2 linked regions of the Homo sapiens genome follow. The protein of the gene in region 2 interacts with the protein of the main gene of each other region in a biochemical or structural test. Each region holds a gene or a part of one and is shown on either strand. Other genes may lie near its edges.

Evidence for each region. The genes of interacting proteins can lie anywhere in the genome.
Region 1: the proteins of RCHY1 (region 2) and ELAVL1 form a complex in vitro, tested with the Homo sapiens proteins (one study listed by BioGRID).

Annotation. Positions count from the first base shown.
Region 1 is NC_000019.10:7,960,642-7,964,920, reverse strand, and holds part of ELAVL1 (ELAV-like protein 1), read left to right. Parts: intron 1-1,113; coding exon 1,114-1,438; 3' UTR 1,439-4,279. UniProt on the Homo sapiens protein: RNA-binding protein that binds to the 3'-UTR region of mRNAs and increases their stability.
Region 2 is NC_000004.12:75,503,556-75,508,613, reverse strand, and holds part of RCHY1 (RING finger and CHY zinc finger domain-containing protein 1), read left to right. Parts: intron 1-5,058. UniProt on the Homo sapiens protein: E3 ubiquitin-protein ligase that mediates ubiquitination of target proteins, including p53/TP53, TP73, HDAC1 and CDKN1B. Mediates ubiquitination and degradation of p53/TP53; preferentially acts on tetrameric p53/TP53.

The DNA.
Region 1 (4,279 bases), on a different chromosome or scaffold from region 2:
AATGCTTCTCTGCATGCATCACGCAGCTTCACAGATGCCGGCTTCACAAATGTATGCTACTCAGATATTCCCAAACTGACCCTCAGACCTTTACTTTTTTAATGTGAGAAAGTTCCAGAGGGAAACATAGCTTTAGGAACTGTTTTGTCATATACCTTAATCCTTATTACAGCATCTGTACATTTTCAGAAGGCTTTATTTTATTTTAGTTTAGTTTAGTTTTTGTTTTCTGAGGTTTTTGTTTTTTTCCTAGAGATGGGGTCTCTCTGTGTTGCCCAGGCTGGTCTCAAACTCCTGGCCTCAAGTGATCCTCCCACCTTGGCCTCTCAAAGTCCTGGGATTCCGTGCTTGAGCCACCATGCCTGGCCCAGAAAGGCTTATTTTTTATGTAAATAAAAGTATCACTGTGGAAAGAGCCCCACGTGTGTGGTCAAGTTTGGTGAGCCTGCCGTTGCTGGTGTCCCAGGGCCCTTCCCTGTCCCTTGAGTTCTCAGTCCTCAGTGGTTTGGCCCCTGACCCTCAGGGGATGTTGAGCTCTAGCCACAGAGGGTTGGTTGCCTGGTGCTTGGGAAGGAATTCTTGTGCCCTACAAGTGGCCCTGGCAAAGGCGTGCTCTAACCAGAGACCACTGGGCTGTCAACGCTTGGGGGCGGGTCATGATAAGGGGAAGGTGCAAAATTTGGAAAAAGGAGTTCAGCCCCTGCACGTACCCCACAGTACGAGGAGAGTTTCCTCCAGGGAGAACTGAGGCTGTCAGAGGCCTGCAGAGCATTTCTACCTTCAACGGAGGACCAGGAGAAGCGCCCATCATCTAAAATGTGGGGAACCGCAGGAACCCCTAAACAGAAACCCCGACATACACAGTGGGAGGAGTGGAGGGCACCAACCAGCCCCTCAGAGTCAGCTCCCTACAGAACAGGGTCCCGCCCCTCCACTACTGTATTTAATTCCTCCCAGGGTTTTGACCCATGCAGGTGTCTCAACCGTGAGCACCTCGTGGCTGCGCAGAGCGGGATGGGGCCCAGCGGCCATGGTCAGCATGCGTCCAGGCCTTGCCCCATCCCCAGGCCGCCTGCGCTGACCGTGGCCTGACGCTTGCTCTCTGTCTGCCAGGTTCTCCCCCATGGGCGTCGATCACATGAGCGGGCTCTCTGGCGTCAACGTGCCAGGAAACGCCTCCTCCGGCTGGTGCATTTTCATCTACAACCTGGGGCAGGATGCCGACGAGGGGATCCTCTGGCAGATGTTTGGGCCGTTTGGTGCCGTCACCAATGTGAAAGTGATCCGCGACTTCAACACCAACAAGTGCAAAGGGTTTGGCTTTGTGACCATGACAAACTATGAAGAAGCCGCGATGGCCATAGCCAGCCTGAACGGCTACCGCCTGGGGGACAAAATCTTACAGGTTTCCTTCAAAACCAACAAGTCCCACAAATAACTCGCTCATGCTTTTTTTTGTACGGAATAGATAATTAAGAGTGAAGGAGTTGAAACTTTTCTTGTTAGTGTACAACTCATTTTGCGCCAATTTTCACAAGTGTTTGTCTTTGTCTGAATGAGAAGTGAGAAGGTTTTTATACTCTGGGATGCAACCGACATGTTCAAATGTTTGAAATCCCACAATGTTAGACCAATCTTAAGTTTCGTAAGTTATTTCCTTTAAGATATATATTAAACAGAAATCTAAGTAGAACTGCATTGACTAACCAGTCCCTCTGGATGGTGGTGAACCTGAAGCATGCTTTAACCTCTAAGACTGTCTAACACGCGTTTCATTCAATGTCTCCACAGACTGGGTAGCAAAAAAATCACCTTTTAGTTTTAGTTTTTAATCTAAAGATGTTAGACAGATGCTGAGTGTGCGTTTTCTCAACCGCTTCAACATTGTAAGCGATGTATGCTTTGGTTGACAGGAAGTTCCTTTTCCAGGCAGGTCCCGTTGCCACCTCCTGCTCACTCAGTCCCGGGCTCTGCCGAGTGGTCCTGGGAATGGCGGCGGGCCCGTCCAGCGTGGGCCACCACTGGGGCCGGGGGCCACGGGCTGCATGCTGGGCGGGCCCTCCAGAGAAGGACACAAACGTGTTTCGTAAGCCCAGGCACCAATGGGAATGGACCAAAGAGTTTCAGGGAAACTCCAGTATATTCCAGAGTCAGATCTAAGCTCCAGGCACGCCTGAAGATGTGTTGCTACTCTGACATCCCGAGTTTCTGTCCACACATTGCATGCACAGCGCCCCACACATTGGATACTGTTGTTCACGATAATTTCTCCCGTTTTCCAGAGCATTTAACATAGCTTGGAGGCGTAAAATGGCTCTGTATTTTAATAACACAGAAACATTTGAGCATTGTATTTCTCGCATCCCTTCTCGTGAGCGCTTAGACCTTTTTCTATTTTAGTCGGATTTTGTTTTGGAATTTTGCTTTTGTATGAACACTCAGCAGAAAAGTACTTACTTCTTGCCAGTTATCTATTAACCAAAACCTTTGATTTGTAGTTTTAAAGATTAACCCTCAAAGTTCTCTTCATAACTGCCTTGACATTTTGGGTTGTTCTGTTCTGTTAATTTTCTTTTGCTTTTTTGTGTTTTTTGTTTGTTTTTACTTTTGCATTTAAGACCATTAAATTTGATTTTGTTTTGCTCGAATTTTGTTTTGTTTTTTATTTTACCTTTTCTTTCTTTTTGGCTAGGGAAGGTGCAGGTGGCCCAGCATTCAGGGAGGAGTCGTAAGATCTTAAGAAACCAATCCTTGCCTCAAGCAAAAGCATTTCTGAATCTGTGACGCAAGAATGTGCAGTTACAGGCTGGTGGCTTTTAAACCAGGAGCCCGGAGGAAGGGTGAAAGAGAAAGCCTGTGAAATAGGCAGGGCCAGATCACCCAAAACTCCTCAGGACTGGGATCTGGCGTTTATAAATAACTAGTTTACAGAGAGAATCACAAACAGGATAACTTAGTACCAGCAGTTTTTAACCTTGACGTGAGACTAAAACGTGACCGTAGGCTGTTTTTTAGTTATTGCTCTCATGAGATGATGGCTGTATTTATCTGTTTATTTATACCTATTTATGTATTTATTTATTGAAGTGTGAAATTGAGCAATAGGCAGGCACCACCGTCCCCAGAGCAGGTCAGCGTCTCGAGAGGCCCCTGGACAATTGAGGATGCCCATCCCCTCCCCTTTCCCTGATCTTTTACTGAGGGGCTGTGTGCGCGATCCTTGCAAATTGATGATGTTGCCATCCGTACCCAGGCTGTGTCTCATAAAAGTCGGCCTGGTGCCAGAGAGGACCTCCTTTCTCCCACAGAATCCCAGATCCTCAGGAAAAGCCAAAACCGAGGCCCATTGCCCGGATTCGACACAAAAGAGGGTCCCTGCTCTGTTGCCCGAGAGCAGTCTGCATCCTGGGACCAGAATGCTTTCCTGGAAAAAGAAGCCTTTCAGGTTTCCCTGGGCCAGCATCTTCTGATGGAAGGTGGGAGCCAACACCCTTCTGATGGAAGGTGGGAGCCAACACCCTTCTGATGGAAGGTGGGAGCCAACACCCTTCTGATGGAAGGTGGGAGCCAACACCCTTCTGATGGAAGGTGGGAGCCAACACCCTTCTGATGGAAGGCGGGATTCCCGCTTCTGAAACTCCCCCTGGAGTCTCACTCCCACACATGCCCATAGCTAGCATTCAACAGAGAACTCTGTCTTAAGCTTCAACTGTGAAAATGATGACGGGCTTGTAGCACCTCAGCTTCTTTCCTCGCCCCCTTTTATCTGAATCCTATCAATTATTCTGATGCTGGGACAGGTGAGAAGAAACTGTGAAGTATATGAGCCTTTGAAAGTTCCCTGAAGTTTCTCAGTTCAGGAACATTCTCATTGTATGTGGTCTCCGCTGTTTGAACAGCCTTCTAGCTAAAAAATTCCAAAGCCTTTATTTGGGAGTCTTAGCTTGCAAGCTTGTGGAAGGATTTAGCTTAACAACTGTCACTCCTGAAAAGCAATCTCTGTTCCATCAAGGTTCTAGTTGCTGGCCCTGTGTCCTCAAAGTTCATTACATCTTATCAAGGCCTGTTTGCAAAGGGGAGATCCCTTTTCTTAAAAAAGGCTCAACCCAAAAGAAACCATTTCTTAAAAAATTTTACATAGATCAGTTGTATTTCTATTTAGCAAAAATGAGTGCTCTGCTTTTATTTGGGAATTTCGATGAAAAAGCGTTCAGAGTAGATAATGTTCATTTATCAAAAATCTGGTTTGGGAAATACCAAAGAGGCTTTGATTGAATTC
Region 2 (5,058 bases):
TCATAATTTGTTAATAATTTAATTTACCCATCAATTATTGTATAACTATTTAGAATTTTACCTTTGGATTATAAAATATGTTTTATATAAAGTGTTTTATGGGCAACTGAGGTAGAGAATTGGGATAAATTTTTCCTTTGTAAAAATTAGTATTTAAAAAATTATCAAGAAATACAGGTGATTTTATAAAAATTGGAAAAAACAGAAAAGTAGAAATAATAAAAATAAAATAACCAGAGCCTAACCACAGACAAGCTACTGTTGACATGTCGGTGTATAAGGAATTATTTTCTTTCTTAAAAATCTCGAGTATTTTAGATGTATATTAAAGCATGTATGTAAAGTGTGTCTAAAGTACAGTACAGTGAATAAGCCACCGAGTTTAGGAAAGGAATGTTACCAATACTGTCAAAGCCCAAGGTGTTCCGTGTTCAGTCCTTTCTTCTTGTCCCTGCTGGAGGTAATCACTGTCTTGAATATTTTAAATCACTTTCTTGCTTTTTTTTTGTTTTTTTTGTTTTTTTAAAATATAGTTTGTTTTTAAGGAAGGATAACCAACCTACCAAAAGATAACAGAAATTATAAGCAAATGATTTTATGAATTTTAACAAATGAACATGCCTTTGTAACCACTACCCAGATCAAGAAACACAACATTCATAGCACCTTCATAGCTTCCTGTGTGCCCCCTCCAAATTAATACACTTCCCCAAAGGTAACCAGTATGCTGACTTTTGGAAGTTTTTAATGAATGGAATCATATAGTATATGCTCTTTTGTGTTTTGTTTTGTATGTTTTAAGGCCATGTCTTTCAGCGGTCACATACTTAAAATTATTACATTTTCCTGTATGATTGACCCATTTATTATTATATAATGTGTCTTTTTATCTTTAGTAATGTTTCCTGCCCTAGGCTCTACTGTATCTATATCAGCTTTCTTTCGATGAGTTTTTGCATGTATATCCTTTTCCATTTAGACATTTTTGTATACTTACATTTAAGTCATGTGTCTTGTAAAACAGCATATAGTTGAATTTTAATTTTTCAATCCAGTTTGATAAAACTGTCTTTTAATTGGAGTATATAGTTCGTTTTTTATTAAGGTAGTTAGGATATGTTCGTGTTTCAATCTACAGTTTTGGTAGTTTCTATTGCCTTAGTATTTGTCTTTTTTCCTCTCCTTTCTTGTCTTCTTTGGATTAATCTGTTGCTTTCCTATTTGCTTTTATTCTCTATAGGCTTGTTAGTTATACATTTTTCAATTATTTTCTTAGTGGTTATCCTAGAAATTATAACATACATCATTGGCTTACTAGAATAATATGTTTATCACTTCTTGGACAATATTAGGACCTTAAACACTAAGAGTCTTTATATGCTATTGTTGTTATATATTTACCGTTTCTATTGCCCTTCTTTCCTGTAGGTCTCCAGCATTATCTTTGGAGTTACTTTTCTTCTGCTTAAAGAATTGTCTTTAGTGTTTCTTTTAGTGAGGTCCTGCTGATGATACATTCTCTCAGTTTTTTTTGTCTCTGAAAAATGTCTTTTTTTTGCCTCCATTTTTGAATATTTTTGCTGGGTGTAGAATTCTAAGTTTACAGGTATTGGTTCCCCTGACCTCCCAACACTTTAAAGATATTCTGATTCCATGGTTTCTGTTTAAAAATATCATTTCTCAGGATTATTATTGCTTCTTTGAAGTTAAAATGTCTTTTATCCTCCTCTCGCTGTTTTTTAAGTCATTGGTTGTTAGTATTTTTTCCGTGTGTCCAGGTTTGATTGAGTGTAATATTTATCTGGCTTGGGGTTTGTAGCATTTGTTGAATCTGTGGCTTGATGTCTTCTGTCAATTTTGAAATATTTTTGGCCAGTTTCTCTTCAGATAATGTTTCTGTACCGTTTTCCCACCTCTTCTGAGACTCCATCCCATAGATCTTTTTACTACATCCCATGTCTCTTTTTTTTTTTCCTGTATTTCTCCTACTTTGATTTTCTTTATGCTTAAATTGGATACTTTCCACAGATTAACTTCCAGGTCTCTCTTCTGCTGCATTGAATCTGCTTTTAAGCCTACCAAGTTATCTATTTATTTAAGTTATAAAATTTATATTTTATCTTCATTCTTGTTATTTTCTAGTTGTCAGGTGAAATTCTTTACCTTTTTTTTCTTTGAATGTATTGATCACAGATGATTTAAAGGACTGTGCCTAATAACTCCAATATCTTGATTATCTATGGGTAAATTTTGTTTTCTGTTTTTTCTCCCTTGGTGTTTGGTTCTGCCTTTTGACATGCTTGATTTTTTTTTTTAGTTGATTGTTGGACATAATATGTAAAAATTTATTAAGCTCTCGATGCTATTTTTTTTTCAGAGAGAATTTAATTTTCTTTCAGAAGGCAGTTAATGTAGGGATGGATAACCTTAATCCAATTTAGCATTGATATGATTAGAGACTAATTTTTGTTTTTTTTTTTTTTGTATGTCCTGTTCTATTTTTTTTTTTTCCTCCCTTTATTCTTATGCTCCTAGGACATAGTCCCTTGGAGATCTTGACTTAAAGCTAGGGTTGTTTACCAGGCCCATCTCTTTCGTGGTGGAATCTGGACTCCAAATTTTGGCCCCCTAGCATAGGAGTACTTTCAGAGGGTTTACTTAGTTTCTTAGGCTCTTACCTGTTGCTCTCTGTTTAGTTTCTTAGCTTGTCACAGCACAGTTTAGGGTCTAAAAATCTCCCAAGGAAGAAAGAAGTAGAGACTATTGACTTTGCCTCAGTATATTTGCTTTCTCTCTGAGATCTTTGCCCTTCAAGCACTCAGTTGCTCTTTACTACTTTTAAACAGCTTGTTTGTTTTCTTTAAATTGAGTTTTTCTAGTTCTCAGTAGGAGTTTTAGTCCTATAGAAGCTATTTCGTCATTGTGGAAGTAGAAGTTACAATATATGTTTCATTTTGCTTATTTTAAAAATCATATATATGGCCTTTTTTTCTTTTTGTTTTTTTACTGAGCTCTGTTTCTAAGATTCATCCTATTTGATTAACTCTAATTCATTTTCACTTTTGTAGTGTTATTTTGTATATCATATCTACACATAGCTTCTAATTACCACACACAACCAAGAAAATCATACCCTCTTTTATTGGTTGATTTATTGACATTCAAGTTATTGTTACTGCAAAGTACACATCTCATGCTACATGGTAAATATTAAACTTCATGAGATCATGGTATTTTCATATTTTAAATTTCTATACCTGGGAGTGCCTTATATCAGGGTCCCCAGTGCTTGGGGTGCGGATTCTGGTGCATGGCCTGTTAGGAACTGAGCTGCGCCCAGTGCAGGGTGAGTGGTGGGTGATCGACCATTACTGTCTGAGCTCTGCCTCCTGTCACATCAGTAGTAGCATTAGATTCTCATAGGAGCACAAACCCTATTGTGAACTGTGCATTCAAGGGATCTAGGTTGTGTACTCCTTATGAGAATCTAATACCTGATTATCTGAGGTGGAACAGTTTCATCCCGAAACCATCCCCCAACCTCGGTCCATGGAAAAATTGTCTTCCATGAAACCAGTCCCTGGTGCCAGAAAGGTTGGTGACCGCTGCCGTATATACAGTAGGTGCACAGTAATGTGTAGGCAGTATATCTTTGGCAGTGTTTTCAGTATTATGATAACCCTGAATATACTAGAAAAATTAGTCATCGCCATTTACCATTTAAGTATAATGGATTCTTTTTACTTTAAAAAATATTTTAAAGCCCTTTTGTGAATAATGTGCAGACGAAAGAATAAAGGATAGTGAAAATTAACTTCACTGGAAATTTTACTAAGAATTTGAACACTGCAAACCCAAATTTTAATTCCATGTATTCCAAGTTGAAGATAATGTGTGCTCAAATATGTCAGTGTCCTCTGTAACTGCTTTTGACCCTTGAACAATGTTGGGGGTTAAGGGCACCAAGTGCCAGCTCAGTTGAAAATCTGAGTATAACTTTCAACTCCCCACAACTTAACTACTAATAGCCTGCTACTGACTGGAAGTCTTATCAATAACACAAATAGCCAATTAATACATATTTTGTATGTTATATGTATTATATACTATATTCTTAGGATAAACTAGAGAAAAATATTAGGACAATCATAAGGAGAAAATATGTTAACTGTTCATTAAGTGGAAATGGATCATCATAAAGGTCTTCATCCTTCTTCATGTTGAGTAGGCTGAAAAGAGGGAGGAAGAAGAGAGATTGGCTTTGCTATCTCAGGGGTGGCAGAGGTAGAAGAAAATCTGCTTATAAGTAGACCTGTGTACTTCAAATTTGTGTTGTTCAAGGGGTCAACTGTATTTACTTGTCAGTTGTCATGCTTGAATCTGGCACATGTGCATCGTGTAAATAACTGATACTAGATTTTAGATACATTTCTAATAGGTTCTAGCTTGTAATTACTTCTGGTTCTTCTTGTATTTGTATCATCAAAATGCAATACTAATTCCAGATCTCAAATACACCACTGATAAGTCTTGGCTTATCATTACTTCTGTACACATATTACCAAATTCAAATACATTTGAGAACTTTGAGAGTCGTAATTTGGTTGAAGAAAAGACGACCTTTCTTCATAATTGCATGCTCTGTAATTGCAAAACATTTTAATGAATTTTTTTCATTTTTACATCATCTGTTTCCTTTTAAGTACTTTAACATATGTACCTGCCTTCAACGTTTGTCCACTTATGAACCATATTAAGTAAATTTTGGTGTACAAACGTCATAAAAGATGGAAGAATATTATCACACATTCTTTAAGGATGTCCAGGTTTTTGTCATGAAATAATGTAATTTGAAGTCCTTCCTAATAAATGACTAAGTGAGGATACCATATTTTCTTTTTTTTTTTAATTAATTTTTTTTTGAGATGGAGTCCCACTCTGTCACCCAGGCTGGAGTGCAGTGGCGTGATCTCGGCTCACTGCAACCTCTGCCTCCTGGGTTCAAGCAATTCTGCCTCAGCCTCCCTAGTAGCTGGGATTACAGGCACTCGCCACCAC